Regions from separate parts of the Homo sapiens genome. Here region 2 is linked to region 1. Evidence: fine-mapped expression QTL. A gene starts in region 1. The other region holds a variant in brackets. All regions are shown on one strand. Distances are between the middles of the regions.

Region 1 (15,331 bases):
AATCTCCTGACCTCATGATCCACTTGCCTCTGCCTCCCAACGTGCTGGGATTACAGGCGTAAGCCACTGCACCTGGCCTAAGTCTTTGTTGTCTAAAGCCAGCATTTGAGGACACTCAAGACAGTTTGTATTGATTTAATTTTTTTTGCATATAAATCACACTTTATTATTTGTGTGTCTTGGATTTTTTTTGTTGAAAACTAGACATTTGAGATAATCTGTTACAACAACTTTGGATTCTGATATTTCTCCCCGTGAAGGTTGCTGTTTAATTTATTTGTTTTGTAACTTGCCTGGGCTGAATCAGTGAAATCTGCAGCATGTGAACAATTATGTCTCAGCTCAATTTTGTTTTTAATATTCAAATTTTTATTTATAAGATTGCCTTTCTAAGGGTCATCTTTGTATTTGCCTAGTATAGTGGTCAGCCAATAATTTGACTCAGTCACAAGCTAGAACACCGAAGAGTTCCACTATTCTTACCCAAAGTTTAGCAGTTTTTAAAGTATAAATACTTCTCAGATTATTATATGCCTTTGATTGATTTTCAGAGTGCTGAAATGGTTGTTTTTGTTAATTATATCTAGATGTATAGTTGCTTTAGGGGGTATAAGCTTTGTTGATCTCCTTACCTGAGCCATAGCTAAAAGTTCTTCCTTCCATAGGAAAGTAGTTACTTGACTGGTATACTTGTAAAATGGCTTTATTAGACTCTTTCTTCTGTGAGCTCTTTGGTGGGTTCTTGAGAGCCTATTCAGTTGGGCCCTTCTAACTGAAACCCCTATGACACTGGCTGTGTATTCTCTTCCTTCAGCTGCTTCTTTCTTACTTGGCTGGCTTTTTCAATGGTCCACTTCACACTAACTCTCAACATCATGGTCCCATAATTTTTTCAGGTAGTCCTTTCGGAAAAGATCTTGAAAATAGTTCCTGGCTCACTTTCTCTTCATGTGGCCCATATATGGTCCTCAGGAAATGTGCATTAATCCTTGTCCTGGCAAGTTCAAGGAGTACCAGCCTTCCCAACAAAGCAACTACTCTTCTTTAATCCACCACCAAATCAATTCACCGTCTGTGTCTCTTGTCTTCTAGATTTCCAGGCTGGAGTCCAACACTGCCCATAAGTTCCAACTTTAGGGGGCACTTAGTGAGGTCCTTGAGTCATCTCCCTGAAGCTCTCCTCAATGTGGGAATGGGTAAAAAATTCAGTACAGTTCTCTCAAAGAAATCCTCCTCATAACATTCTTTCTCAACCCCCACACTTCCAATTCTTTTTAAAAACTCCTTGTAGGAAGGGATTTTTGGAGGCATAAAACTGGTTCCCAAATATTTCCTTTTGAAAATCTGCTTCTTACTCTGAAACATTATTTTAGAATTTCTTATCTATTGTATCTTGTTGCCCCCATTAAAACTTCCAATTTGGCATTTTATTACACTCGTGTTTATTTTTAGAGACTTCTGGTCCCTATCAGACTAAACACTGTTTCTTAAAGCTATGGGATATTCATAGATATTACGTGAAAAATGGGACCTAGGAAAAAATAACTTTGGGGAATAAATACTGTGGTAAGCAAAGGTAGGCAGATCTCTTTTGCTATAGGAATTCTCAAATTCTTCACTATGTTAATATGAACTACGAAGTTACAAGTAGGGCATATAGACTATAGATTTTATAAAATTATTTGACCATGAGGACCCCTCCCCTACCTTTTTTGAAAATTGTTTCAAAGGATTAGTATTCTATAGGAGGTATTTTGGAAATATTAGCCTGGAAGGTACCAGTGGAAAGGAAAGGTATATTCTTCTTCATCCAGAAAACTCGCCTAAGGGAGACAACATGTTATTGTCCTTCACCTACTCCTCATCCTGGGAATTTTGAAAGTTTCATGTGTTTTTATGTTTTTGCTTTTTTTTAAACCTGATTGTGGTAAAGCTTAATGGCGTAGTTCCTCCACTAGACCATGAATTCCTTGTGGAGAGGAACCTCGTCTTATTCATCTTATATCTCCAGGGCTTATGAAAGTGCCTGGCACCTAGCAGGACCGAATGAGCCAAAGTGTTAGTGGAGGGTTTCTTTACTTCTTCTTTTAAAGAAAGTAAGAAAGGTCTCCACACTGGGGTCCCAAACCACCGACATGCAATAGTCAGACAAGCCTATTATTGGGTGCTTATGAAACCTGCCAGTGTGTGAAAATCTGTGCTTATAAATATTTGGCATACAGAAGAATGTGTATGCAAATTAAATGTGCAAATGTCCTGTGCTCTTTCCAAGGGCAACCAGGTTGAGTTTTCTTTTTCTTTATATCTGTGAGTGTGATTGTGTACACACAGCTTAAGAGACGAGTTGCTAAGAACTTTCTGAAAGAAATGAATGGGATAAAACAGATTGCCAAGTTACTGAGTGGTAATTAAGAACAGATTCTTAACATTATCACTTTACCATTTTTAAGCTATTTTCCTTTAAAAGACAAAACCACTGAATGATGAAATGTGTCATGCTTCTCCTGATGTCCCTGAGTCTTTGCTCAGTTGCACACACATCCATATGCCAGTCCAAAGTCACACATCCTGAACATTGTAAGCAGTTTCAAACTATTTTTCAATGGAGAAAAATGTGTATGTGTGTGTCTGTGTGTGTCTGTGTGTGTGTGTGTATGTGTGTGTGTGTGAGACCCATCATCACCCCCAATATAGATCACCTGGGGAAACTTATTTCTTTTAAATATTCCAAAATATAATTTTACCCTGAAGCTAACTGGAATACTTGGCCCTGAGCATTATTTTTCAAAGGATTTTGAGCTACTGAAAATGGGGTATAATGGAAGTTTTGTATGTGATCATGACAGTGCAAGTACCCTGGCTCCAGAAATAACAAAAGTGGTGGTGGCTACTAGCAGGAATGGCCTTTGCAGACTGGGGACCTTGGGCTCTGATCACAGATTGGCAGGAGGATGGTCAGAAAAGAATTCCACTCCATTTCCCACCCATTTTGGCACTCTACTCACTGTGCGATAGTCCCTCTCAATTTGGCCAGGTGTGGTGCAGTGGGCCACAGTTGCCTTGCTGGCCTTTGAGGGAGGCCACATGCCAGATTAGACATACGCGTGGCCTGTCTCTCTGCGGGGGTGGAGGGCCGCCGCCACTATGTCCTGGAATTGTGTGTCTTGTGGTTAAACACTTGGGGTTTTGACGTAGGCAAGGCAGCAGAGCCGACCCTCAAAGCTGCTGCAAACAACCTGAGAAGGCTTCTCAAAAATGCAGTCCTGCTCCTCAGGAGGAGATGGCCTTTATGGGGGCAATTTTCTGATTGCTGCCTATTTGCTGTGGTTATGCTTGAGCCAGGGGAGATTTCTTAACTCCAAGAAAGAGGTTTGCAGAAAGCTGGACTCCAGAAACCTGTACGTTAACGTTGAGTACATTCTTAAAATTAACTAACAGAGGAGCTGTGTGTGTTGGGTGGAGGGAGTGGGTATAGAGGTAGGAAAGAGGGCAAAGAGAAGAAAAGGCATATAAGAACAGTGGTCATCTGTAAGGTACAAATATTCTGCAATTTAATCCTTACTCTCGCACCATGGGATTGGTCCTTCTATTAGTCTGAATTTTGCAGAGAAGTGAAATGATGCTCTTACTTACAAGAGTCAGAGCTGGAATTAGAAACCAGGTTTTTCTCATGCCATATTCTGGGGTCATTTCTACCACATGACAATGAGGACCTAAAATATCTTCAAGTTGTTGGGACATGCAGTTCATGTTCTATTGATAAGTATGTACTTTCAGGAAGAAATTGTGGTAGCCATGGGCTTTTTCTCTCTTTAGCTGTATCCTTGGAAGTTACCGTGAGATAATAGAAGTCCAGGAGTCTTGTCCTGAACAGTGGAGGTTGTATCCCTTACTAGAAGTGACAGAAGCAGGATAGGCCCCAGGATCAGGCTCATGATCAAAATACCTGAAGTGTGATGTGTCTGTGCTGGATGGGGTCCAGTTCAAGACAAGTTGCTTCTGCCTTCTAGGCATTAACAGCACACCTGATAACAAAGTTTGACACCTCCCTGAACAGAGTCTAAGAGCCAGCAGATTGATACTGACCACATAAGTGGTAGGATGAAAAAGACTTTGAAATTTTGAGGCATCCTTTTCCTTCCAAGTTTCAGAAGAACTTATTGAGGTAGAGGCTTTCAATTTATTTTGCTTCATTTGAACTTTACAACAATACTTTAGGGTGGAATAATTTTCATCCCATGTTGTTGTTGAAGAACACTGTATTTTTTAGGATTCTCCTACTAATAGGAGATTCAGAGAAACAACCAACAGGATGTAGTATATGAATATTGAGAGAGAGAGAGACTGATTTTAAAGAATTGGCTTATGTAATTATGGAGGCCTGGTAGTCTAAAATCTGGAGGGTAGACCAGCAGGGGTAGGCCAGCAGGCTGGAGACCCAGGGAAGCATTGCAGTTGGAGTCCTGAGGCAGTCTGCTGGCACAGTTCCCTCTTGCGGGGTGGGGGTCAGTCTTTGTTCTATTAAGAATTTCAGTTGATTGCATGAGGCCTACCTACATTATGGAGGGTACTCAGCTTTACTCAAAGTCCACCAATTTAAATATTAATCTCATCCAAAACCACCTTCACAGAAGTATCCAGAATAATGCTTGATCAACTATCTGGGCACTGTGGCACAGCCAAGTTGACACATGAAGTTAACCATCACAAAAACTATGCTTGAGAAAGTTTCCTGCCATGCTGAGGTCACACAGCAGTGAGAGGCAGGGCTGGGATTTAACCAAGGTCTTTGGTTCAAACACTTGCTATAGTCCACAATAGTAAATCAGAGAAAGGTATATGTTATTTGCGGAGAGTCACATATTGATTAGATGACATATTCATGGGGCCTTCATTTATTCTTCAGAAAGTCTTTATGGAGTGCTATTGTGGTCCATGCTGTACTAGACTAGGATCTCTACCCCTGGAGAGTGAGCAAGTGACTTTTGTGAAGCCTGCTTCTTATCATGATAGGCTGGGCCTTGGAAGTATATAGTGAGCTTTGGAAGCCAGGTCAACCATAATGTGCTATTTGAGAATCTTTCATCAAGCAGGTACAATTTTCCAGATGAGTAGTGTGCTACAGAGGGCCTCACTGTATGTTCCGGGAACATTCCTAGAATATGCAGGTGAAGAAGGATGAAACCCCTTTCTTGGGAATCTTGAGAATAGGAGAGACTCCCACATTAGGACCCTGTGAGTGATAGGGCTGGGGGTAGGGAGTGAATCAGATGATCTTCGAGTGGGCCCTACTACTTCATGGACTCTTCAGGGCTTGCCAACCTCAAAAACAGCTCCTCAGCACTGACAGCCACGTATTTTATGAATTTCACTTGCTCCTCATCCCAATAGAACCCAATTAAGAATGCTTGGGGGCCAGGCGCAATGGCTCACACCTGTAATCCCAGCGCTTCGGCCTCTCGAGTTGAGAGAATTGCTTGAGACCAGGAATTTGAGATTAGCTTGGGAAACATAGCAAGACCACATCGCTACAAAAAAAAAAAAAAAAAAAAAAAAAAAAAAGGTTAGCAGGGCCTAGTGGCATGCACCTGTAGTCCCAGCTACTGGGAAGGCTGAGGTGGGAAAATCCCTTGAGCCCAGGAGTTCGAAGCTGTAGTGAGCTATCATCGTGCCACTGCACTCCAGCCTAGGTGACAGAGAGAGACCCTGCCTCCAAAACACTTGGGCAAGGATGGAGAGACTCCCCTCTCCCAGACCTAGAATGCTTGCTCCTCAGCCTCACTTCCCCTGTTTCTGTCCTCATGATGTCCCCAACCTGCCACCTCTGAGTCTCTGGCCCTATCTTTTTTTGTGTTTTTATTTATTTATTTATTTATTTATTTATTTATTTATTTATTTATTTTTTTGAGACGGAGTCTCGCTCTGTCGCCCAGGCTGGAGTGCAGTGGCGCAATCTCGGCTCACTGCAAGCTCCGCCTCCTAGGTTCACGCCATTCTCCTGCCTCAGCCTCCGAAGTAGCTGGGACTACAGGCGCCCACCACCACGCCTGGCTAATTTTTTGTATTTTTTAGTGGAGACGGGGTTTAACCGTGTTAGCCAGGATGGTCTCGATCTCCTGACCTCGTGGTCCGCCCGCCTCGGTCTCCCAAAGTGCTGGGAATACAGGCGTGAGCCACCGCGCCTGGCCAAATCTGATCTTCTCTTAAAGAGAGTTTGTGGAAGGCATCCTCTGTCTTCTGTATTACAATCTCACTGGTCAGAACTTGGTCTCATAGCAATTGTGAGCTACCAGGGAGTCTGGGATGGTGAATATTGTAGATTTCTAACTTCTTTAGTTGAGAAAGGCAAGGGAGAATGGGTTTGTCAATGGCTTCTGGAAACCTATTTGCAGGGTCTGCTGAAGAACAGAGCTCACCTTGCCAGTGGAGCCTTGATATGAGAGAGGGAATGGAAGGAGGTAAAAGTGGGGTATTATGCCAGGGAGAGCAATCCCACAGTGACCAAACAGCAGCTCCCTGCTGCAGGGCCCTCGGTGGCTTGGGTCAAAACAGCGTGGCCTCTACCGAGAGGCCCAGCCCTAAGACAGCTCCTTCTGGCAATCAGCTCTAACCAGCTGCTGCCAAAGAGGTAAACACATTCCAAGTCCTTGAGTCCCTGCTGCACTGTAACTGTGGTTAAAACACAACCCCGCCTCTACCAGTTTGGGCTAATGGAAAGTTCACTATAGTTGTGTTTTAATGATGATTTGCAATTATCCGTGCCCCCTCCCATTCATGGTGAGATGAATACCTAAACACTTATGTTGTCTAACCATATAAGTATTTTGCATCTCACGTGTATCATTTTAAGTTCATTTCATTCTCCAATCCTTGGGAACCATGAAGGATAACACATTACATTCTCTTTTTTTTTTTTTTTTCCTCTGGAAGATCATGCATTACATTCTCTTTTTTTCTCTGGAAGGGTGGCCCTTAAACCAAGCCATTTCCCTAAGCCCCTTTGGTGAGGTGGAGAAACAGACAACCACTAACACAGAACAACCACTGAACACCCAGAAAACTGTATACAGGTCATCACCCAGTGGGGGCACCATTTGCTTGCAGAGGGAGCTGGGGAAAATAGGAAACAGAGAAGATCAAATACTCCCCGTGAGGGTGTTGCCAATCCCAGAGAGGACAATTGCTCTTGACCAAAGCAATCTCTAGTTCAGTCAAGGAGACAGACCACAATCACATTTAAAAAAAAAAGAAAAAAAAAAACTAAAAGGAAATTTTAAAAGTATGAATAAGAGCTATTGTAAACTGCTCAAACTATGCATACAAGCAATGAAGTAAGATGAATTGACTGGCACTGAATTGGAAAAGCTATACAGAGGCAGGGAGTGTGGAACATAATTTAATAAAAATAAACTTAAAAAAATATATATACACTCCCAAAAAAGAAATGGAAAAGTTGTTAGGGCGTGGACCAGGACTCCTAATTAGCTGTTCTGTTGTGCCTGATTTCGCTCCTGTCTTGCCCAGCACCCCTTGGGACACACTGTCCAGTGCAGGGACACTTTGGGGAGGGACAGGGGATTCCTTGGCACCGGGACCTTCACCTCCGAGCCGGCCTCAGACCAGGCCATTTGCCCGTAGCCCAGAGGAGGAGCCGGGGAGAAACCCGCTGCCCAGGTGGCCACTTTTGCCTCTTTGACCCTTCCATGTTTCCAAAACAGAAGGGGCCCTGAGAACGCTCCCTGCCAAAGTGGGGAACAGCTACCCTCATTGTACGCCTCGCCCTGCCGGTGGCGCTCTCCCCCCGCCTGCGTTCGGTCTGAAAGTGTGAAAATTACAAATCCCAAGAAACTGCAATCAGAAGTCTACCTAGGGAAAATTCAGAGTAACCTTGCCATAAATATCCCGCTCCAAGACGCCTGACGTCAGAGCGGGGCGGGCGGACGGGCGCGAGGCCGGGCCTGGAGGGGCGGCAGCCGCGGCTTCCCGGGGATAGCGCGGAGCACGCAGCAGCGAGCGGAGCGCGGGCGGCGGCGCCGTACCTCGGGCTGCGGGAGCGCGGGCGCCCTGGGGTCCTCGGAGTAAGTGCGGCCGGCCCTGGCGCTCCCCGTCTTGGGGCCCGGGCCGCGGGGAGCCCTCTCCGCTGGGCTCCCACACTTCTCTCCCTCTGCTTTCTTTAGCATGCCCCGCGGGGCTTGGGGAGGCAGCAGCTCCGCAGGCTGGCGGTTTTGTTTCTCCAAAGTGTTTGCAGGAGCCGCCGACCCCGGAGTGGGCTCCCAGGGCCTGTGTGTGTGTGAGTTGTGTGTGTGTATGAGTGTGATTGCGTGTGTCTGTACTGGCACATCTGGACATAGGAAATGTCTTTGGAAAACTTTTTAAAAATGTTTTTTGCGGCTTTGAAACCTGACCCCTGGTTGTCACAAGTGGACAAACACAGAAGATACCCCGCAAAACTGACAACTTTTTGGTGGTGGCTTTTCCGGGTTCGGCTTGAACCTTCACTTGGCTGGGCTGAAGTCTTCACAAGCCCCCAGCTCCCACTTGCAGGCCTGGCCTCTGGCCAGTGGGCAGGGCAGCCGTAAGGTTCTTGTTCTCAGTGGCAGTGGGACCCTGGGCGGGGGAAGGAGCATCTCAGGAAAGGGGTCCCCGGACTCTGGGGCTCTCAGCACCTGCGGTCGCAAACCAACCTCATGCCCTGACTTTACCAGGCGTCGGGACTCTGACTTAACCGGGGAATGAGGGACTTGGTCTGGCGGCAGGTAATTTTGTGAAGAGGATGAGAAGGAAGAGGGGGAGGTGGTGGTGATGGCCAGGACGCTGTGGCCCTGTGTCCAGCCGTAGCTTGGGAGTGGGATGGTTGGTTCTGCCACATGGCCACGGTGAGGTACGTGCCAGGTTCTCCAGGAGTGCCGCGTGTGGTGCCCCAAACAAGATGCAAGCTCCTAACATAAAGAGACGTGTCTGAGCTGTGGGGTGGAGGAAGGGGGGCGGTGGGGGAGAGGGAGATTTTTATCAAAATTGAACACAGATTGCTGAGATCTGGGCTTGATTTAACTCTTCTCTCTCTGCCTCGGCCACTTCTCCACAGTTTTGGAGTGGATTTGGAACGTTTCTCGGAGGGTTAGAGGAAAATCACACCTCTCCGGAAAAGAGTCCCCATAGGTTTTCCCTTGATGCCCACGTGGGAATGAAAGCAGCTTCCCATCTTTAAAAAGTTCAAAGTCTTGTGTTTTCCCCCTTCTGAGTTTGGTGTTAGTTTCCTGAGTTTCTTTGCAAAGCCAGCTGAAGCGGGGGATGGATTTTCCCTAGGGCCTAGGGCGGAAAGTGTGCTCCACGGAGAGTAGGGGAAAAAAGCAGCAGTGAGGCTGTATCGATCCATCATCCCTGAGTAGCACAGTGCCAGGCACTGCCTGTCAATAGCTGGGTTCCACAAACGAGTGACCACAGACAGACTGAATTTTCAGCTTTGAGCTAGCCAGGTCTCTGGTTTTGTATTTTGCAGTAGAGCCAACCTACAATGTCTGGGTGGGAGGAAGATTACTGGACTCTCCCTCTGTCCTAGAAAAATGAGAAAATGAAGGGACAGGGAGGAAATCTGGATGTAAAAACAGACCCACAGGAAGTTAAGATTCAGGAAGGATTTTAGAAATTATATAAATTGAACCCCAGGGAAGCTCCATAAAAGATGGAGCAGGCAGCAATGTCAGAAACAGACTCATTTAACTTCAGGAGTACGTTGTCAACTGAAGTGTAATGAAGGAGGAGGAAATCATCCCATAGGCAATGTAAACAAGGGTGCATGTAAACAGGAGTGACTGGTCCCCATGAGATGCACATGCCTATGTGTTTTTACACATACATGACTGTGTGGTGATGGCCATGGCCTTAGACATGGGAGGATAAATGGTCTATTTCTTCATCTGTGCTGGGAACTCCATCTAACCCCCATTTCTTCCTTTATGCAAACAACTGTGCTATTATTGTCTTGCTCCCTGGTAGTTGCAAACTCTGGCTCCTAACTCCCAGCTGAGTTTTCAGAGCTTTTCCTCCAGCGCCTCGGATGCTGAGGGAATACTCGTGCCCCCATCAGGACAAAAAGAGGAGAGAACATTCTCCTGGGCATTAGAACTTAGAGAGTCAGGGGCTCAAGAAGGCGGAGGCTGTGCAGGCAAGACCAATAGGAAGGCCTGTAAATGATTTTGTTTTTGGTGAGCGTGGAGGAAGTTGAAATACTACTGCTTGCTGTGAGAACATGTTCTCTCCCCAGTCTTCTTTCCCGACTGTCTCCAAAGTTTTTGATGCAAAACAGATTAAACTCCCCATTACTAAAGAGCCTTGGATCCAGGTGTAAAGAATGAAGATAAAGGGTAAGTACAGGCAGTAGAGAAAGCATAGAGATAATGAAAGATGAGGCTTTCTTATTTGATTTTACTAGAGCCAATGGAAGTAACAAGTTTAAATGTTCTCATTCATTTCCATTATTTAAACATAGAAGACTACCCAGGGACAGAAGGGACCCCTCGGAACAGGATTCCCAGAAATACTCTTATCCCAGCATACAACTCCTCAGGGACAGGTGAGGGGCAAGAACTGGGTTTTCAACTCTTTCTACATGTGGGGTTTCTGGGAGTGCTGCATGTGGGATCAGTGGAGTCCTGATGCTTCTGGGCTTGTACTAGGAGACATTTCACTATGGCCGGGATGAATTCCCAGGCCATGGATGCCTAGGCTGACATTGAAGCCTTCTCATGGCTCATTCTATCAGTTCAATCTTCTGGCCAGCTCTTTGGTCATCTTTGAGATTAGATTAAGTAGATGGGATGCATTCCAAGACATCCTTGAAGGTCCAGAGGGCAAACACAGCTGGCAGAAAGAACAAGTTGAAGGATATCCTTGGCTTTGATAGCGGATGACCCTCTAGATCTCAACAGCCAGAGACTCTGTCAAGGATCCTGTGTCATTCAGCCCTAGACTTCAGAGGCAGCCCGACAACAATGGAAAGAGTGCAGATTTCTGATCAGCTGCCTGGAGAGAGAGAACTGTGACCTAAATACGAATTAGTAACCTGGGCTACATGACTTATTCCTTCTGAGCTTCAGCTTCCTCATCTGTAAAATAAGGATAGTATTTCCCTCCCCAGGTCATTATGAAAACATTTATGCACAAGAACTAAGAACAGAGCTCAGAATGTTATAAGACCCTTCATAAAGGGAGTGCTGTATTTTTATTTTTCAGTTTTTCAGCCATCACAAGCCAGTATTGCTTGGAAAGAACCTCTCCCCAAATCTAGCTACATATTTTCCATGATTGAAGGCTAGTGGGTGGAGTTTCTAGGGCTCTGATCATCCTTACTTCCTTCCTCTAGAAAAGGTGACCAATGAAGATATTCCATGAGCATCCCTGGTCCATTATCCTGAAGTGTGGGAGAAGAAACCAGGGATCCTGGATGTCTGGCCTAGAAATCACTCTTGTGTTTGTGCTCTTTAGGGAGGGAGAAGGACAGAAGAGCAGGTTGTATAAGTATGGTGGGGAGGGGAAAGGTAGGGAGGTGGGGGTAGGGCAGGAGGGTCAAGGACCAATTGGATCTTGAAGGACAAGCCTGAGTCAGAGAGCGGGTAGGCAGCCACTCCTTGTCAAGGGTGCTCAGGTCAGAGTAATGGGGGAATCTGATGGGTTGTAAAGAATGAAAGCTTTAGTCATTGCAAACATCTCCAGTGGGTATGGGGTGGGAGGCTGCCCCCTGAACCCTGATTGATACATTATCCAAGGGAGTGACTACTCCAAAGGAACAAAGGAACATCTGATGTTAGAGAGCAGCTGCAGGTCCTCTTGGCCCATCTCAAAGCTTGTAAGTTATCCTTCAAGTTGACATTTAAGATTTTGAAGATCACATTTGTTTTTGTTTTGTTCAAGCTCTCTCTTTAACCATGGCCTGGGATGACTTTTAAGCTTTTAAGAGGCTCAACCAGTGGTCAACTTCTCTTGAGATGGCCCAGAGCGGGGGTCAGTGAATTCCTCACTCTTGGCAGCATCTATTTCTCCAACTCTCTCCACATTTTTTGGTTTGTTTTTTGTTTCATTATGAGGTTCTAAAACTGCACAGTCAAGATGCTGTGGGGGGAGGAAGTAAGTGCCTGTTCTTGGAACCTGTGCAGCGTTATGCTAGCACTGGCCAAGACTTATCAGACTATGGTTATTAATAGGTGTTATGGGTTTCTTTCTGGGGTCCCCCTCCAAAAAAAAAAAAAAAAAAAAAACCTGTAAAAAAAAAATGAACTTTAGGCAGTTTGATGTCTCTTTCAATCCTGGCCAAAGAGGAGCTGAATTATTTGTGGTACATCCTATGGTTCCAAGGAAGAGCTTTAGAATCAAGCAGACAGAGATTTGAGTTCTGGCACCACCAGGTCACAAGCTTGCTAACCTCTCTGAGTCTTCTTTATCTGTTAAATGAGAACAATAACTATTCTCATTCCCCAGGGTTGTTCTGAAAATGAAATGGAATGATATAAGGGAAGAAGCTAGCAAACTGCTCAGTAAAATGTTAATGCCATTCCCCTCTCCAGTTCTAAGTCCGTGAAAATACATGGGTTTAGACATTTGTCCACAGGTCAAAGTAAATAAGCCACTTATTCAAGGATTAACAACTGTGCTTGGAGGTCAGATATCTCAGCCTGGAGATGGAGACCCTTTATACAAAAGTGGGGCACAGAACAGTGCTCCCCATGCCAAGCAAATGGCAGCCCCATGTGACCCTCTATTGGAATAAAGGAAAGGCCACTAGCTCACTCACCCATGAATTTGGGCTATTTAGTGAGCTCTCCATAGAGCTTGTTTAAAAAGCTCAAATACTGTCCTGAGAATCAAGGTCAAACTGAGGACAGAAATCATTGAGGCAGTACCTAACATTAAAATCTAATAATGATGTCACAATGACAGCAGTATTTTAAATTTATATAACATTGTATCATTTGAAAGGTACATTGTCTCATTTAAACATCGTTGACAATCATATGAGATTGATATTAACCACATTTCACAGCCCAAATTCTGAGGACTTAAAAAACTTACCATATTTCACACCTTAAGTAAGTGGAATAAACAGAAAACAAACTGTTCCCCAAGCAGTGGGTCTCAACCCTGGCTGCACATTAGAACCACTTGGGGGAGCTTGTAAAAGTATCAATGCTTGGGCCCACCCCAGATCAATTTAATTAGACTCCTTGGGAATGGAACCTAGGCGTCCACAGTTCTGTAAGCTTCCCAGGTGATCTGAAGTCTAAGCTGAGAATCACTGGTCTAAGAGGAGTGAAAAGCACCAAAGTTAGGACCCAGGATACCAGGCATGGGAAAAAGAAACAGCCAAGACTTTGCTAGGATTTAAGCCCTATGAGGGTGCAGACTTCGTATGGTTCTCCCTGTATCCCTGGAGCCTAGGAGAGTGCCAGCTACAAGGTAAGTGCTCAATAAACATTGGGTAGATGAACAAATGAACAAGATACCATAGATTAGAAGTTGTCAATTTCAACAGTGAAACCCAGCTTGTCATCTTGTTTTATAGATAAAGTTTTATTGGAACACAGCCATCTCTGTTCATTTGTGCTTTGCCTATGGCTGCTTTCGTGCTGCAATGGCAGAGTTGAGTAGATGTGACAGAGACTGCATGGCCTACAAAGCTGAAAACATTTACCATCTAGCATTTCACAGGAAAGGTTTGCTGGCTCCTGCTCTGGATCCCAGACATGAACAGAGCAAGTATAGTAGCTTAGGGAAGGTCATTACTGCATGGTTGTTAAGAATATGGGTTCTAGAATCAGATAAACCTATGTATGATTCCTGGAACACTTACCTATTAAAAGAGCTTGCAAATTATTTCACCTTTCTGATTCTCAGTTTTCGCATCTGAAAAGTGGGGATGATAATAAAATACCTCCCTCATAGGATGACTGTGAGGGTTGTCAGCCCCTGGCGGAGAGTAACATTAGCTATAGCTATGGTAGTTGCTGTAGTTACTAGCAATCAGCCACATAGAGAACTAACTAGACAAAAGTCAAAATCTAAATCCAGTATCACAAGGTAGATCAAGGGATGAAGTAGGAAAAAATAGGCAGTCAGTAAGCTTGTGTGAAGAAAGACTAATGTGAGGTTTCTGAGATAAATGGTGTCCTTTTAAGACAACACAGATCAGGCCCCAGGAAGTGTGAGTGAGGTGCTTTTGTATGACCAATTGCTGTGTCGGCCAGCAATCCCCATCAGTCCTCAAGGGTTAACTTAAGTTTCATTGCACCAAATCTAGTCTCAAGAACAGTGCACCTGTATACATAGTTCTTTCTACCTGAAAGTCCTTGCCTCAGTCCTGGTCTTCCTGATCTACTCATCCTCCAAGGCCTGCTCAGGTGTCCCTTTTTTTCTCAAATTCCCTCTACAAGGCTCATTCCAACCCCCTTTTCCTCCTTATTCCCTTGAACCTGGCACACAACTCTGTCATCACATTGAACACATTGCATTACCGTCGAGGAAGGACCAAGTCTCCTTCATGCTTTCTACATGTTTACAGCTCATAAAAGTCAAATTGCATTGTAGAATCGACGCCTGGAAGCCAAACCATATCAACTAGGCCCTTAATCCAAGGCAATCATGTCTGAGTTTGAGGAATGAGTAGGACTTGCCCAGGTGTGATGGGCTTGCAAGAGCTAGTCTCCATAACCAGAGGGGCAGGAGCTACCCAGTTTATCGACTATGTGGATACTTTGTGTCCTCGTCTCCCCACTGTTTGGTGGCTCCTGCCCTCCACAACACTTCTAGGGGGTAGCCAGAGACAGGGAAAGATGGAAGAAACTTAAAACCAACTCTTTGATTTCTTGTCAGCAGATGTGGTGAAAAGTCGGGTTTTGTCTTCTGTAGGCTTTTCATGGATATGTGCCAAGATAATTGGGAGTTGATTTGGTATGTGCCAAGAGAATTGGGATTTGGCTCTTTCGTTAGCACCGTAATAGAAATATGGCCACAAATAATAGCAAACAAATAATGCACAGTTTTGCTGTTTGACTACAGAATGTGTTGCATAATTTTTATAGACTTTAGTGGCAGACTTATTTTGGTGGCAGATATATATTGTGTGTGGAATAATGTAAAAATGAAGTTCTATTCTGATGGTGAAGGGGAGGGCACAGAAAACTCTTCACCTTGAGTTAAATATTTCTTTTGATCCTCCCCAAATGAACGATTGGGAGCTGCCTCCTAAGAGGGGCAGGAGGAGAGGAAATGAAATACTATTTATCTATATGCTCCACTATACATGACACTAGGCAGGTCATTTTAAAAAATATATTCTTCA
Region 2 (15,331 bases), 33 kb after region 1:
CAAAATCGTGTTTAACATTCTTGTTGCCGTAGTGGAAACTTTTGTTCTTTGGAGGGCTTCCCATCCTAGGCCCAGGTCAGATTCCTCAGCAGAGCTCTGAACATTTTCTAGGGAAGTTTCAGCAGTGAGATCGCACCTTTGATGCACTTACACAACTGTGGCTGGATTCTGGGTTAAGACTCCCAGGATCCCAACATACACAACAGGGAAACTATGCAGCTGGAGGAAGGGCCATGTGCCTGGGAGTCTTTCTGGGAGGCCAGGATCAAAATCCTTTTATGATTCTATTACTTTTCTGGGTTTCTCTCCTTGCCCCCTAATGTCTTAAATCTAAGATAAACAATGAGCACTTCAGTCAGTAAAAGATTATGCGTAATAACACACAATCTCCAAATTTCAGTGACTGAAAACAACAAAGGTGTATTTCTTACTCATGTTATCTGTCGGTAGTGGATCAACAGAGGGTCTCTGCTTGTTTTAGTCCCTCAGGAACTGAGGCTGGCAGAACAGGCCCTGTCTTCAATGTTGGCAGTTGCTGTTCTAAAGGAAAAGGGAGTCTGGTCCTCACAATTAAAAGCTCTAGACCACTAATGATGCTTCTGTTCATCAGTGTTCTATAGTGAAACAGAACCAATAGGATCTCTCTCTACATATATCTGGATTTGTTTTAAGGAATGGGCTCCCATGGTTGTGGGACTGACAAGTCAAAAATCTGCAGGGTAGGCCAGCAGGCTGGAGACCCAGGAAAGAGCTGATGTTGCAGCTCAAGACTGAAGGCAGTCTAGGGGTAGAGTTCCCTTCATTGGGGGACCTCGGTCATTTTCTCTGAAGGCCTCCAACTGATCAAATGAGGCCTACCCACATTATGGAGGGTAATCTGCTTTACTCAGAGTCTACTGATTTAAGTGTTCATCTCATGTTAAAAAAAGAAAAAATTCTGGCTGGGCATGGTGGCTCACGCCTGTAATCCCAGCACTTTGGGAGGCCGAGGTGGGTGGATCACCTGAGGTCAGGAGTTTGAGACGAGTCTGGCCAGCATGGTGAATTCCCAGCTCTACTAAAAATACAAAAATTAGTCGGGCATGGTAGCACACGCCTGTAGTCCTAGCTATTTGGGAGGCTGAGGCAGGAGAATCGCTTGAAGCTGGGAGGTGGAGGCTGCAGCGAGCCGAGGTGGCGTCACTGCACTCCAGCCTGGGTGACAGAGTGAAACTGCATCTCAATTAAAAAAAAAAAAAAAAAAAAAAAACTTCACAGTAACCTTTATACTGGTATTTGACCAAATACCTGGTCCCATGGCCAACTTGACACATAAAATTAACCCTTCATATTTTCAGCGAATGGGCCAAAGTTAGCCACATGACTCCACCCAACACAAGGACCCAGGAAGTACCATCCTCTGTGTGTAATCGGGGGTGGGGACCAACAATATTTGACTAAGCACCAACAACTAGAACAACTATAAATTATTTTATCTGAGGATGAAAGAAAGTATTAATCTGTGGTATTTTGACGTTAATGCATTCTACTAACACAATGCAGAAATAGTGTTAGACTTAGCTCTACCTGCTCAATTCATTCGTAGCAGAGGTCATGGAAGAACATGGGTTGTAGCATGGCCTGGCCTCCAGGGTGACTAAATTTGAACACTGTTACTGAACATCGTCCTGTTATTCTTCTGTATTGTTTTCTTTATAACATGTTTTCTGTGTGTGATGTTGCATTTAAAGCCCATTTGTGTGCTGTGTAATTGAAGTATGCCTTGCAATTAATTTGGCCTTTGTGACCTCCTTTTAGTATAAATTCTTTAGGTTCCTTTTTCTTGCTTGGATCGGAATCATCTGAAAGGGCTCAGGAGCCAGCTGTCGCTCTGTGTTTTTTGCTACTGAGTCACTGTTTCTGACAAGCCTCTCCTGAGTGTGGGCCCTCATTTCCTTGTCTAGAGTGGGGTTGAGCAATGTGATTTCTAAGGTTCCTTCTGGCTCTGACATTCTGTGTGCCTTTGTTCCACACCCTTTTTCAGTGATGCCAGTGCCAGGGGGTACAGCCTCAGGGATGTATAACAGGGTTTTCCTCCACAAAACTGGCAGAATTGTTCTGGGTTCTTATTTGAAAATGTGGCATGTGGCCTCTCATCAGTGCTTTGGCCATTTTGCATGCACTAACTCACAGAGAATGCAGGCTACACCCCAGCTGGTGAGCATCACCATCATCTCTATGCCCACTGGCTTTCTGTTTGGCTGGAGGGAAGCTGAGGACAAGAGGATGTTAGGTTGGAGCACAGGGAGGCCTGTGGAAGGCAGGGACGGTGTAGAGTCTGGCCCAGCTGAAAATGGGCTTGGGGAGCCTGGCCAGTCCTTCAGGTCCATCTGGGCAAACCTAGTCTTCAAAGGGCAGAGTCACAAGGACCTCAAATGCTACTTACCTCCTCCAGTACTAACATTTGACACATCTAATGCCTATTCATTGTTGTGAAGTTCAAATGAGGTAACTCATGAGGAAGTGCCCACAAAACTAAACACTTATGACACACTCTCAAACACACTCTCAAACAATAAGAATTACTATCATGAGCTGCCTGACTCCACAAGATTTTAGTGCTAGGTGCTAGGGACAGAAAAGTGAAAAAAAGATGCTCAGTTAATTAGCATACAATGTGATGCTACCTCTAACAATAGACTTTGGATGATGTCTTAGTTCAAGCTGCTCTAACAAAATACCATAGATTGGGTGACTTACACAGCAAACGCTTATTTCTCACAGTTCTGGAGGCCGGAAAGTCAAGATCCAGGCACTGGCAGATTTGACGTCTGGTGGTTCAGCCTTCTCACTGTGTCCTCACATGGCAGATGGGATGAGACAGCTCTCTGGGGTCTCTTTTATAAGGGCATGAATCCCGTTCAGGGGAGCTCCACCCTCATGACCTAATCATATCCCGAAGGCCCCGCCTACACATAGCATCAGATAGGGAATTCTGCCTCAACCTATGAATTTTGAGAGGACACACACATTCAGTCCATAGCAACGGGCAAAGCTTGTGAGAGCACAGAGGAAGGAGTTTTTAATGTTCAACACTCTGCTCGTGGGGGTGGAAGCCTCCATAGCAGCACTGACAGTTTAACCTGGTCTGGAAAGATGGCAAAGACTGCACAGGTGGAGGGAATGGGCATCCTAGCCTGAGTGAGTGGCAGCGTGCTGGAGAGGCTTATGGAAACCTCTGGTAATCTGGCCTGGTGGCTGGGTGGGGTGGGTGGGACCATGTGGGGGAAGCTGCGGAGGGAGCTGGTGATCAAATTAGGAAAGGTCTTGGATAATCTATGAGGAGCCTGGACTTCGCTGAATTTTTCAGTTACCAGGTTTTAAAAAACTTTTTATTTCAGTTTTTGGCTGAAAGAAGAAGCTATTATTTTAATTTTATTTAAAACCTGCCTGTGGATCTATAATAGGCAAAACTTAACTCAAATAGATTTAATCATAGCCTTGCTGCACTGTCCTGTTAATTTTGCTACTCTCCTTCCTCTTAGAGCTTCCACGTAGAATACATTTATCTTCTCGCTCTAGTCTCGTCTTGATTGAAATATTGGAGTGAGAGATAGAAGGTGGGATCTTTATTTTTTTTTCTCTGTATACAGAATAATGCCTATTTTAGAATGTGGAAAATACTAAAAACTATAAAGATGAAAAAAGAAATTTACCCTCTGGACAAGGTTGGTAGAAGATGAGTGGTTGAGCTCCAGTAGAATCAGTTTTGTTCAAATCCTAATTTTTTCACATATTACCTGTAAGACCTTGGCAATTTACTATCTCCAGGCCTCAGTTTCCTCATCTGTAAAATGGGAATAATAATCACAATACCTACCTCCTAAAGTTCCTATTGGGACTAAATCATTTTCTTCATGCAAAGCACTTAGGAAAGTGCTGTGTACATAGCAAATAATTAATATTTCTTATGGGTTATTGCAACACCCTCTGGGTGAGTTCAGCCCTAGAGGAAAGTAGGTGAGTTCCCTTGGGGAAGGGTCTTTCTGCCTCCATGTTCTACATCAGGAAAGTGGAGAAGCTTGTCATACCACAGGATGAGGCTAGTGCCGAGTCACAGACTGGTGTGTGTTCAGAGTTTTTCCCTGGAGGATGCTAGCTTATCCTCCCTTGCTCCTTCCTTTCTAGCATTTCCACCCACCTCGGGCTCTTGGGGCAGGCTGTCCCTTTAAGAAAGAGAGCCACACATTCTGCTCCTGACAGTGGCCCTGCCTCCCTTGCTAGATACCTTGCTGGGCTGTGGTTGGGACACTCCTGGGCTGGATTTTAGTACTGAAGCCTCCAGAGGAGGGGGCACTGCTTCAAATCAAGCACACCCCACCCCAGGAATCCATGCCCACAGAAGGACTCCCTGTCTGCAGCCCCCTGCTGTGGCCCTGGGCTCCCAGCACCCAGCTCTGGGACATCAGAAGATAATTCTTGAGGACTGAGCTCAGGATTCCTAAAAAGAAAGTTGGAAAATAGCTGGATAAACTTGGTAAGTGAAAGAAAGCCGCGTTACATCCTCTTCCTTGGATTGTGGATTGCAGATTTTGGGTTGAGTTCTGGTGACTCTTGCCAGTGGTATCTGATGGGCAAATGTGAGAAGGAGGAGACAGAGGTGGGGACTGGGATCCCCAGTGGGTAGCGAGTCTTGAACTTGGGGATAGCCCCCCACCTTATCCTGGTGGTTGTCAACCTTGAGGCAGGGAGCTGGGGGTTGACATCTGAACATAGCTGGAGCCTGGCCCAAGGAGTGAAGATCCGGGAGGGGCAGATGTCAGATTTCTCCCTCATTTGGGAAAAACAAAGTGTGGTCAGTGAGTGCTGTTTGTGAAGATGCCAGAGACCAGTGACATTTGCAGCCTGAGGGTGAAATGAGTGACCCTGTGAGTGTATCTCAGGAGGAGACTTGGACCAATTCCTCTTCTTCCTATAGGGTCAGGGGACAGACCAGGCCTGGGCCCCAAGAAATCTGCGTTGTCTCCTTGGATTGAGGCAGCTGCCCATGAGCAGCAGCGGACAGTGTCGTAGTGGGAGGAGGCAGGTCTGCCAAGGGCAGGGAAGAATGGAGGGCCTGTTACTGCTGAAGCCTGGGAACGCTGCCTGGGGGGAGGCCCACGCTCCCCAGAGCTGGAGTGAGAAGGAATGGGAGGAGAAGTCTATGCAGCAGGGGGATGGGCTCAGCCAGCATCCCCACCCTCTGCAGAGCAAATGCCCCCGTCCCATTTCCTGTGGCATGGACACAGGTGAGCTTCCTGGCCTTGAATGCTCAGGTACAGTTTGGAGGGCTGGGGTCTGTTACAAAGAGGTGGCCTCCCATGGAGGAAGCAGGAAATGCTAGAAGCCTCAGCCCCTGGCACTCACCCGAGGGTTTCCAAATCAGAGACACTTTCTGCTAAATTATGCTTCAACAGATGTTTTCTGTGTTCCTACTTGTGCCAGGCTTTGTGCTGGGGATTTACCAAAATATAATATGGCATGGTGGAATTGGGAAGGTGTGCAGAGCTGGAAAGATATTTTGGATGTGAGATTAAAGCCATTTTTGAAAAGTAACAATAATAGTTACCATTTATTCTGTACCTTGAATGCACCAATCACTCTGCTAAAGGCTTTGCATCTCCTTTAATTCTTGCAGTAGTTTATTGACTTGTGACTAATTTTGTAGATTTCAAAGATTAAGAAACTAAGGCTCAGAGATTAAGGACCTTTCCTTAAAGATGCAGGGCTGGTAAATGGCAAAGCCAGGATGAACCTCTTAAGTCGTCTAACCATTTATTCATTTGTGTGTTCAACAAAGTTGAATTGCTGGCCTACTGTGTGACAGCCATTGTAGAGGGCACTCAGGACACAGCTGGGACAGGGAAGGGTCCAGGGCAGCCTAACTCCATAGCCTGGGTCCTCACCCCCAGCCAGAGCCCTTCACACTGGGCCCCAGAGACCCCTGGGAACATTGTGTGATTGTTTTCTCCAAGGTCTGAGACTCTGCTTGAGAATGTGCTTTTCCTTGAGAAATGTTTCTTTGTTTTCATTTTAATAATAATACTGTAAAAATTGGAGGCATTTATTCTGAATCATCTGAATGACCACCATATAACCTACTATTGGCATGCGATTTTAGTCCCCAGGTTTGTGTTTCTGTGCAAGTTGGCACCGAGTGGTTTCCTAAAATGATAGTTTTTAACTTTCAATGCTTTGTTTCTCAAACTGGGCTCTACACTGTGTGCTTCAAAGGCCCAAAGATTAAGAAAGGCTACATCGACAGATTCTACTGCAGGAAGGGAGATGTGCAGTATGGGTGTCCCAAGAGGAAATGGTTCAACATCCTCCTCTCCTGGGGGGTGAAGAAAACTGAGGAGTTCAGGTTGGGGCAAAGCAGCTTGGGGGTTCTGAATCTTCCAACCTGCTGGTCTCCAAGCTCAGGATGGACCTAGGCCAGAGACTCAGAGAGGAACAGGCAAGTCAGGAAAAACGAAGACTCTTGAGTTCAGATTGGTGTGCTCTGCTCTGACATAGCATCTCTGACCTCAAGCAAACTTGCTCCTTTCTGGGCCTTTGCAGATGGGACGACTTGTGCCGGGAAGGGGGAAGTGTGGGG[C/T]CTCCCTGGAACACTGTGTGACTTCCTCCCAAAGAGGGATGTTTTGTGGTCATTCAGAACTTCTGACCTTTCCTGAGGCCCAGCTGTTAGGTGAGAAGGCCATCGCATGATCCCTGGTGTACAGAACTGTGCATGTGACTTGTGCCTCACCACCCTGGGGGCATCCAGGGCTGTATCATGCTAGCCTGGTGCTTTGGCCCTTAGATGGGGCTGGGCAATCAGCATCCTTTCTGGATCGGATGTCCTGCCAGTCTTGGAGGCTGGAGGCAGGAGACTGAGGACCCCTGCCTCTCCATCCTCTTCCACCTCCTTTCCCTCCTCCCCCTGCTGGGGTTTTGGGTCTTGCTGTCATCTCTGCTTTTGAATGATGCTCCATTGTATCTCCACTCTCTGGTTACTGTCCCTCAGCTGGGCCCTGGGTGGTCATTCTGGTCGTCTTTTCTCCAGACTCCACTCTACCCTCTTCTGTCTTGTACATTAGGAGTCAGTGAACATTATCTGCAAAGGTCTTGATAGTAAATATTTCAGCTCTGGGGGCCTTCTGTGCTACACATTAGTAATTTGTTCCTAATTTTATCTCCTCAAGCGCAGGAGTCAATAGAACTTGGCTATCTCTGCAGCCTCCCCCGCCCCCAGTTCTGTGCCTGCTGGGCAGTAGGCACTCAGGAAGTATTGCTGGCATAAATCCCAATGACCTCTCCCCATCCCCCTAGAGCCCGTGCCCCAGCAGGGGGCATCTTGGGGTCTAGCTGTACCATTTTGGGAAATCAGGATCTGGTCACCTGTTGGTTGCTGTGGCATCCTGTAGCTAAATCCATCTCTGGCCCTGTAACCTGAACCTGCCCCAGGCCCTGTGCTCCAGGATCAAGTGTCCCTGTTTGTTTTGACATCCCCTGTGGGGCGTTAGAGATCCAGATTTCAAAGCAAGATTTTTTTCTAGCAGCGGTTGAAGGCCAGGCCCCTGCCAGCTCCTGGGCTCCCATGTTAGCATTTTCAGTTAATTAAGAAAACAAACCCCACATCCTTGACAGAGGTGGTTCTGCCAATTCAGGACAGAGAACTTTGCATCAGCATAGCATGCAGGAGAAGCTGGCCAGCTCCTGCAGGCAGGACAAGCTGAGGGAGGCAGATGTTTGAGCTGGAGAGGACCCACTGGTGCCTTCTCGGCAAGAGCAGGTTCCGCGGAAGTCGCATGGTTGGGAAGCCAGCTCCAGGCAAGGTCCAGAGCATGGAATTTCTGTTCCTCTTTCCCCATCCAGGGTGCATTTATCATGGGTGAGGGCCATGGGGAAAGGCCAGCTGGATGAGAATAGCAGGGGGAGACACAAATACTTTCTTGGGACTTGCCAGTCTTCCTCTCCAGAGCCAGGTTATCCCAACTGTCTAACTCCTGGAGGAGAATGATGAGAGGTGACCTGGGGTGGCTTCAGAGGGGCCCAGGTAGCTGACCTGCCAGCTGCCAAGAAGGAGCCTGATCAGAGAGGCTGCTTAGCCATGCAGGGCCTGGATGTGAATTTAAGAAGGGTCTTTGTCAGGCTGGGTGCGGTGGCTCACGCCTGTAATCTCAGCACTTTGGGAGGCCAAGGCAGGAAGATCACCTGAGGTCAGGAGTCTGAAACCAGCCTGGCGGACATGGGGAAACGCTCTCTCTACTAAAAATACAAAAATTAGCCAGGCATGGTGGTGTGCGCCTGTAGTTTCAGCTACTCAGGAGGCTGAGGCAGGATAATGCTTGAACCCGGGAGGTGGAGGTTGCAGCGAACTGAGATTGCGCCACTGCACTCCAGCTGGGTGACAGAGCAAGACTGTTTAAAACAAAACAAAACAAAACAAAACAAAACAAAACAAAACAAAACACAAGGTCGGGGGGTTGGTGGGGGGCCTTTGTTTCTTGAAGGAAACATAGTTAAGCATACTCCTGTAAAGTAGCCCAGCTCTGCCAGTGTGTGTGTGTTGGGGGGCACTTTCCTGAGCCTGGCTGTGCATTCACTCACAGAATCACCCTGTCACCTGATCACACACCCTCTCCATCGTACCAGGGATAAGATATGTCCTTCCCCTGCTCCCACCGTGGCTGTGATTGGGCAGGTGGGAATGGGGGGAGTCAAGGGAGCATAGGTGGGACTGGCTTTCTGCACCCCGATATCTGTACTGAGTGTACTGAGTGTACTCTTTCCCAGGTGTACAAGCCCTGCAGGCAGGGTGGGCTCATGTATCTCCTTGGATGTGGGATTCTCTTGCAGTTCACAGCCTGCACACTACATGCAGTGGTCCTTGTACCTCTTGGGTAGAATGGAATTGGAGGGAGACCCAGTCCTGCTCTATCATTGCTAAATGGCCCAGCACACATTATTTGGGCTTTGTGAATCTCTTAATTTCTAATGGGAAATGGGAATGAGGTTCACATTTTATGTGTCCCCATGGTGCAGGTGTGTTGGCAAATATGAGATAAGGCGTATTTCATGCCTAGTGCAGTGAACCTGGCCTCCTTCCCCATTGGACATGTGTCTTGGTCCAGCTTCTGCCTGCTGGCTTGGGATGTGGCTGCCTTAAAAGATAGTGGGGAGAAATGATAAACACACGGCTGGCATCTTCTCAGCTTAGGAGAAGAGCCCTGGGGAAGAAGCGATTGTGCGGCCTGCTCCTGGTCTCTGGTATAACTAGTTCAAATAACTGCCAGTTAGTAGCAGATTTTTTTTTTATTTTACTTTCGAGGGTCTTCTCCTTACCTGCTGGAACTCTCTGGGCTCCCTGCCATGAGTACTTTGTCATTCACAGCACAATCCCAAAGTGAGGGGCTGGGGCTATTCTAGGAAAGCAAGTCTCTTAAAAGGTGAGCATCCCTGTGGTGTCCTAAAGCTGGGGAGAAGCCACTTAGGGTTTTGGGGGACTCTCGACTCCTTCTCTTTCTCTCTTTTTCATTTCCAGTGGAATCCTCAGGTGATCGGTTGTGTAGCTGATATGCCCAATAGCTCCCCTTTCCTGGAGAACATATCCAATTTGCCTCACGATCCTCCTGAAATTCTTGAATCCCTGGACACCAGGCTAGTTTGTTTGCTTTTCTCCTTTTGCCAGTGATTTTTTTCACTTCATATTAGGACTGTTTGCACACAAAAATTAAGAAAAATGTACATAAAAAATCAGATGTGAAATGTGAAAAAGCATACTAATGGTAGGCAAATAATAATAATTAGTATGCATAGTCACAGGTTTCTGTAACTTCAACTTGGCAAATCCAAATGTCTTGGAATGACTGTCAGGAGCACCTTCTCTTTTTAAAGAGAAGTTTCTAAGTACCCTTCAAGCTTCAAAGAGAAAATCTGAGGTGAGGAAATCAGGAGAAGTTGGGAATCAGTTTCCTGGAGTATTTGAGAATATTTAAAGAGAGAGGCGGTGTAGCTTGGATCCTAGCAGGGCTCACAATATTTAGGGGAAATATTCATGAATGAATCTTGGCTAAGATTTTTGGAATTTTTAATTTTTGTTTTTATATTGCATTTTTGTAGTTGTTGTTTCCACTTAAGTAGAAACTCAGGAGAAACCAGGAAGCAAAGCAGAATTTGTCTGCGACTGTTCTGTAGTGGGAGAGAAGAGTTCTGTGCTGTGAATTCGAAAATTGGGTTCTAGACATGGCTGTGGCATGAGTTTGCTGTGGGTCCTGAGGCAAGTAGCCTGCTTCTTGGGCCTCAGTTTCTCGCCTGTAAAGCGGTCTTTAAATGGTAGTACCTTCATTCTCAACGTCTTGTGCATGCCAGCAGCTGTATGAGGGGCGTCCTGCAGATCATGTCGGAGAAAGGAGGAGTTGAGTCCATTTGCACACAGGTGGGGAGTGTGACATCTCAAGAGGGGAAGGCACAGCTATCCAGGAGCTGAAGTGGGGCGGGGGTAGTCTTTTTCAGAGTCTGATTATTGGGTCTGGGTTTGTGGAATGGTGCTTCACCACCCCAGGGAATGGTGGCCCTCACTCACGCCTTGGCTCTGTGTGTGTGGGCTCATGGAGGTGCCCCCGGGCCTGGTAGGATGCAGGGGCCTGGGCTTCAGAAACAGTGGCTGGAGGATTCTCCCTGACTCTTTTCCTTGGGGTCCTCATGCCTGGATTACTCTTCAGGGTCTCTGTCTTTGTGTGAAGTGTGATACCCCTTGACCCCCTTGGTCTGAGAATGAACTCTCTTAATGGACCAAAGGGGAATCTGGAAAATCACAAACCCAGTTTCAGAATTCAAGGGGTATAGTCCCTTCATGTCTGAGCCCTGGAGTACTTCTTGGGTCATCTTGCCAGCTGCCCAAGCTCTGCCTGCCCTGCCGCTCACACTTCTAACTCCTGCCCTCCCTGCTACCTGAAGGCTCATACCTGGGGAACGCCTCGCTGTCCTTGGAGACTCAGCCCAAAAATCACCACACCTACAAAGTCTCTCTAACGCCTCCTCCTCCCCACCAATTTCAGGTAGTAGGGTTCCCTCTCACCTGTGCTCCCACAGGCCTGTCCCTGATGAAGCACTGAGCACAATGTTTGAAAACCACTGTTCTGTCTGACTCTCGCTAGACTATTAGCTTCCAGAATGCAAAGCCCTGACTGGTTCAGTTTTGCATTTCTAGTATGTCTTAGTCCATTTGTGCCAATATTCCACACACTGGGTAATTTATAAACCAAAACAACATTTCTCATGGTTCTGGACTTTGGGAAGTGCAAGATCAAGGTGCCAGCAGAGTTGTTGTCTGGTGAGGGCTGCCCTCTGCTCCTAAGGTGGTGTTTTGTTGCTTCTTAATGAAAAACTGTAAAGAGCATAGGTACTCCTTGCATTTTTGCTATTCATTCATGCAGCCAATATTTAATAAGGACCTACTATGCATTAGCCCTTGCCAGTGGAACTATGCTATAGTTTGCATGTCTGTGTTCCTTTCCTTCCTCTGGAGGGGAAGAACACTGTGTCCTTACATGACAGAAGGAATGGAAGGGCTAAAAGGGCCTAAGCTAATTCCCTCCACCCCCCTCCGTCTTTTTTTTTTTGAGACGGATTCTTGCTCTGTCGCCAGGCTGGAGTGCAATGGTGCGATCTCAGCTCACTGCAGCCTCTGCCTCCCGGGTTCAAGTGATTCTCCTTCCTCAGCCTCCCGGGTAGCTGGGACTACAGGTGCGTGCCACCATGCCCGGCTAATTTTTGTATTTTTGGTAGAGACGGGGTTTCACCATGTTGGCCTGGATGGTGTTGATCTCCTGACCTTGTGATCTGCCCGCCTCTGCCTCCCGCCTTTTTATAATGCACTAATCCATTCATGAAGGTAGAGCCATCATGACTTAATCACTTCCCAAAAGGCCCCACCCTTAGTATTATTGCAACAAAGATTAAGTTTCAACATATGCATTTTGGAGGGAACACAGACATGCAAACCATAGCACAGTTCCACTAGCAGGGGCTAACGCATAGTAGGTCCTTATTAAATATTGGCTGCATGAATGAATAGCAGAGATGCAAGGAGAATTTATGCTCTCTACAGTTTTTCTTTAAGAAAGAAGCAAGAATGGTTACTGTTTGGATAATTCACCCAGGGACCAGCTTCACGGGATGCTGTTTAAACAGATAAATCCAATTGGCATCTCTTCTTTGTATACTTTTGTTGATGGCAGGGGCCTGGGGAGCGGGCTGTGTGTTCCACACAGGGTGTGTGGATGGGCCTGCACATGCGCCTATGACTGGTTGTGGGTAGCAAGCACAGAATGATCCTGTTTTTCTGTAAATACTGAGCCACAAACATTGGCAGTGACTTTCTGGCCATTATCCTCAGTGGTGTGTGATTCTTGCGGCTTTTCCCAGGGTGTACCAAAGGAGTGTGACTGTGGTGACCATCGATGGGGAGGCTGGCAGCACTCAGGGTGATGGACAGAACCCCATGGTTGGTTCCCTCTTAAGAGGCTTGTGTTGGAGGCTGAGTGATACCTCATTTGGCACCAGTTGGAGAGTTTATAGCCTGTGAGGGTTCTTACACTTACCAAGAGGAAATTGGGCAATAGAAATTTATGTTAATGTCTGTGGGATAACAAAAAAGCAACATGTCCCTGGGTCAGTAGTGATCTTACCTTCAGGGGTTTGTTTATTCATTGGCACACTCAGACATTTCTACTCAGTGCCTGCCATATATGCCTGTCCTCATTCTAGGGATGCAGACTGAACCTGGTCCCTGCCCTCAGAGGGCTTAGTTTCTGGTAAAAGTGCTTGAAGATTGGGAGGATGGGAGTTGAAGCTGGCACCCTCCCCAGAGCCGTTCTGAGCCGGCCCCTTGGTGGGAAATATCATTTCTCCATTTATTAGCTCCTCTGTTCTCCCCCAAGTTGTTGCTGGCCAGAAGCACCTTGGTACCACCCTTCTAGATTTCTCATGCTCCCTCCTTCCCCACGCTGAGTTAGAGACCCTTCATCCATACTCTCATCATTCCCTGTACAGCTCCACCAAGATACTTCTGCCCACTACCCCGGCCTGCTCACATTTGTACCCCCTTTCCGACTGGGAGATTTTTACAATCAGGTCTGTGTTTTATTCACTGCCGCATCCTACAGTGCACAGTGTCTGGCCCAGAGTGGGGGTTCATAGATGGTTGTGGAGTGGATGCCCATGGGGCAATGCTGGACTGCATTTATTTCATCTTCAGCATTCACACTGAAGCCTGTGTCTATCTATTTTCATCTTTTTCTGGGTCCGTCATGGAGAGGCATGACTCTCAGAGAAGTTGCTGAAAAGCTGGGGCATTGCGAGAAATTGGAGAAATCTGGGAAGCCACAGGCTGGAGTCGCTGGGGTCCGGTGAGTCCTCTGTGACTGTCATTCCACGCACTCCCTCCCAGGGAGGGAGGCAGGTGGGCTTCAGGGCTGACAGAGTGGGGCTCTGAGTCCAGACTGTGCTTGTGCTGAGGCCTGCGTCTTCTTCATCGTGAGTGGGGACAAGTGATGCTGACAGACAGACCTACCCCTGTGGCCCTCCGGCTCAGGCAGTGCAGCTGGGCCAGCAGGAGAGAGGGCCGCCTGGGAATAGCTGGGAAGCAAGTCCAGGCCTTGGGCCCACCTCCCCCAAGGCCAGGATGTGGCGTGGGACCCAGGCCTGCGGAGGTTCCCACCACTCTGCTCCTGCACTCCCAAATGCTCCAGGCCCAGGCAGCAGGAGGGGGTGGCGAGGGGCTCCAGCTGCCTGGGTCAAGACTGCATCAGGACCAGGGCAGCTCTGCAGGCACACACCTCTGACATTTAGCCTCCACCTGGATAGCTGCCAGTGGCCCTGCAGTCCGGACCAGCTTTGCATGGGGGAGGAGAGTCAGGGATTAACCATTTCAGGCCCTTCCTCCATCAGGCAGAAACTGGTCCTCTCAGGTCGACCATGTACCAAGGACCGGAGTGGGCATATTTACAAATGTTGCCTCATTTAATCTTCACATCAACGTGAGGGTGTGGGCATCATCTCCATTTCTCAGATGAGTAAACTAAGGCATGTGGGGAGTTATGTAACTTGCCTAAGTCTACACAGTTAGTAAGTTTCATATATTCCTTCTTTATTACAAGGGCCTATTATGTACCAGGTAGTAATTCTAGTCACTGCGGATACAGCAATGAATGATAGACAAAAATGCCCCATGGAATATACATTCTTGTGGGAGGGATAATGAATACATGGGATGTATAGTCTGTCAGGTGGTGGTAAGTCTACGTGGAAAATGAAGGGAAGGGAGATGGGAGGTGCTGGGAGCGGGGCTGCTATTTCAGATGCCCTTGAAAGACCTCACTGAGAGGGTGTGAGTTATTCACACTTAGTGCTGAATAGGTGCCTGGTGCTACCCTAATCACTGTACCTGACTCACTAAATTAATCCCCACAATTAATCCCCACAATCTTTGAGGCAGATTACTATTATTATTCTCATTTTCACATGGGGAAACTGAGGCACAGGGAGGTTAAGTAACTTGCCAAAGATGACACAGCAGATAAGAAGCAGCTCTAGGATTTGCACCCAGGAAGTCTAACTCCTGAGTTCTGGCTCTTAACCTCTGTGTGGCCTCTGCCAGGGCCACAAAGACAGTAAATGGGTGGGAAGGTCAAGAGGCTTGTAAGACCCCACCTGAACAGTCCAGGTCTGTGGCCTGGGGGGTAGGCACGCTGAGGGACAGGTGCACTAGGGGGCAGGTGCACTGTGGGGACAGGAGCACTGGGGAGGCAGGTGTACTGAGGGGGCAGGTGCACTGGGGGGGGGCAGGTGCAGTGCAGGGACCAGAGCACTGGGGGGTAGGTGCACTGGGGAGGCAGGTGTACCGAGGGGGCAGTTGTACTGAGGGGGCAGGTGCACTGGGGGGCAGGTGCACTGAAGGGGCAGATGCAGTGCGAGGGCCGGGGCACTGGAGGGTAGGTGCACTGGGGGGGTAGGTGCACTGGGGGGTAGGTGCACTGGGGAGGCAGGTATACTGGAGGGACAGGTGCACTGGGGGCGCAGGTACACTGCGGGGACAGGTGTACTGAGGGAGTAGGTGCACTGGGGGAACAGGTGTACTGGGGGGACAGGTACGCTAGGGAGGCAGGTGCACTGGTGCTCACTCCTCTGCAGCTCCCTTGGTGAGGAAAGGGTAGAGGGGCCGACAGGTCAGTTGCAGTTAAACCTGGGTGAAAGTGGGGCTTGACTAGTTTGTGTCAAATAAGGAGAGGATGAGCTCCCCAGTGAGGGGGTCCCAGAGGCTCCCCTT

What was found. PIP is the estimated chance that this variant, and not a neighbour inherited with it, causes the effect.
Region 2: its variant is fine-mapped to the expression of DAAM2 in whole blood (TOPMed, PIP above 0.99).

The regions. Positions count from the first base shown.
Region 1 is chr6:39,784,388-39,799,718 of GRCh38, forward strand. DAAM2 (dishevelled associated activator of morphogenesis 2) reads left to right here and starts at 7,989. Exons shown (of 25, transcript NM_001201427.2): 1 at 7,989-8,078.
Region 2 is chr6:39,816,958-39,832,288 of GRCh38, forward strand. All of the region lies in intron 1 of DAAM2 (dishevelled associated activator of morphogenesis 2), which reads left to right. It overlaps LOC124901487 (a long non-coding RNA gene), which reads right to left and starts at 2,854. Exons shown (of 2, transcript XR_007059917.1): 1 at 2,740-2,854. RefSeq lists an enhancer at 7,203-7,763. The variant C/T (reference allele first, on the strand shown) is at 6,617.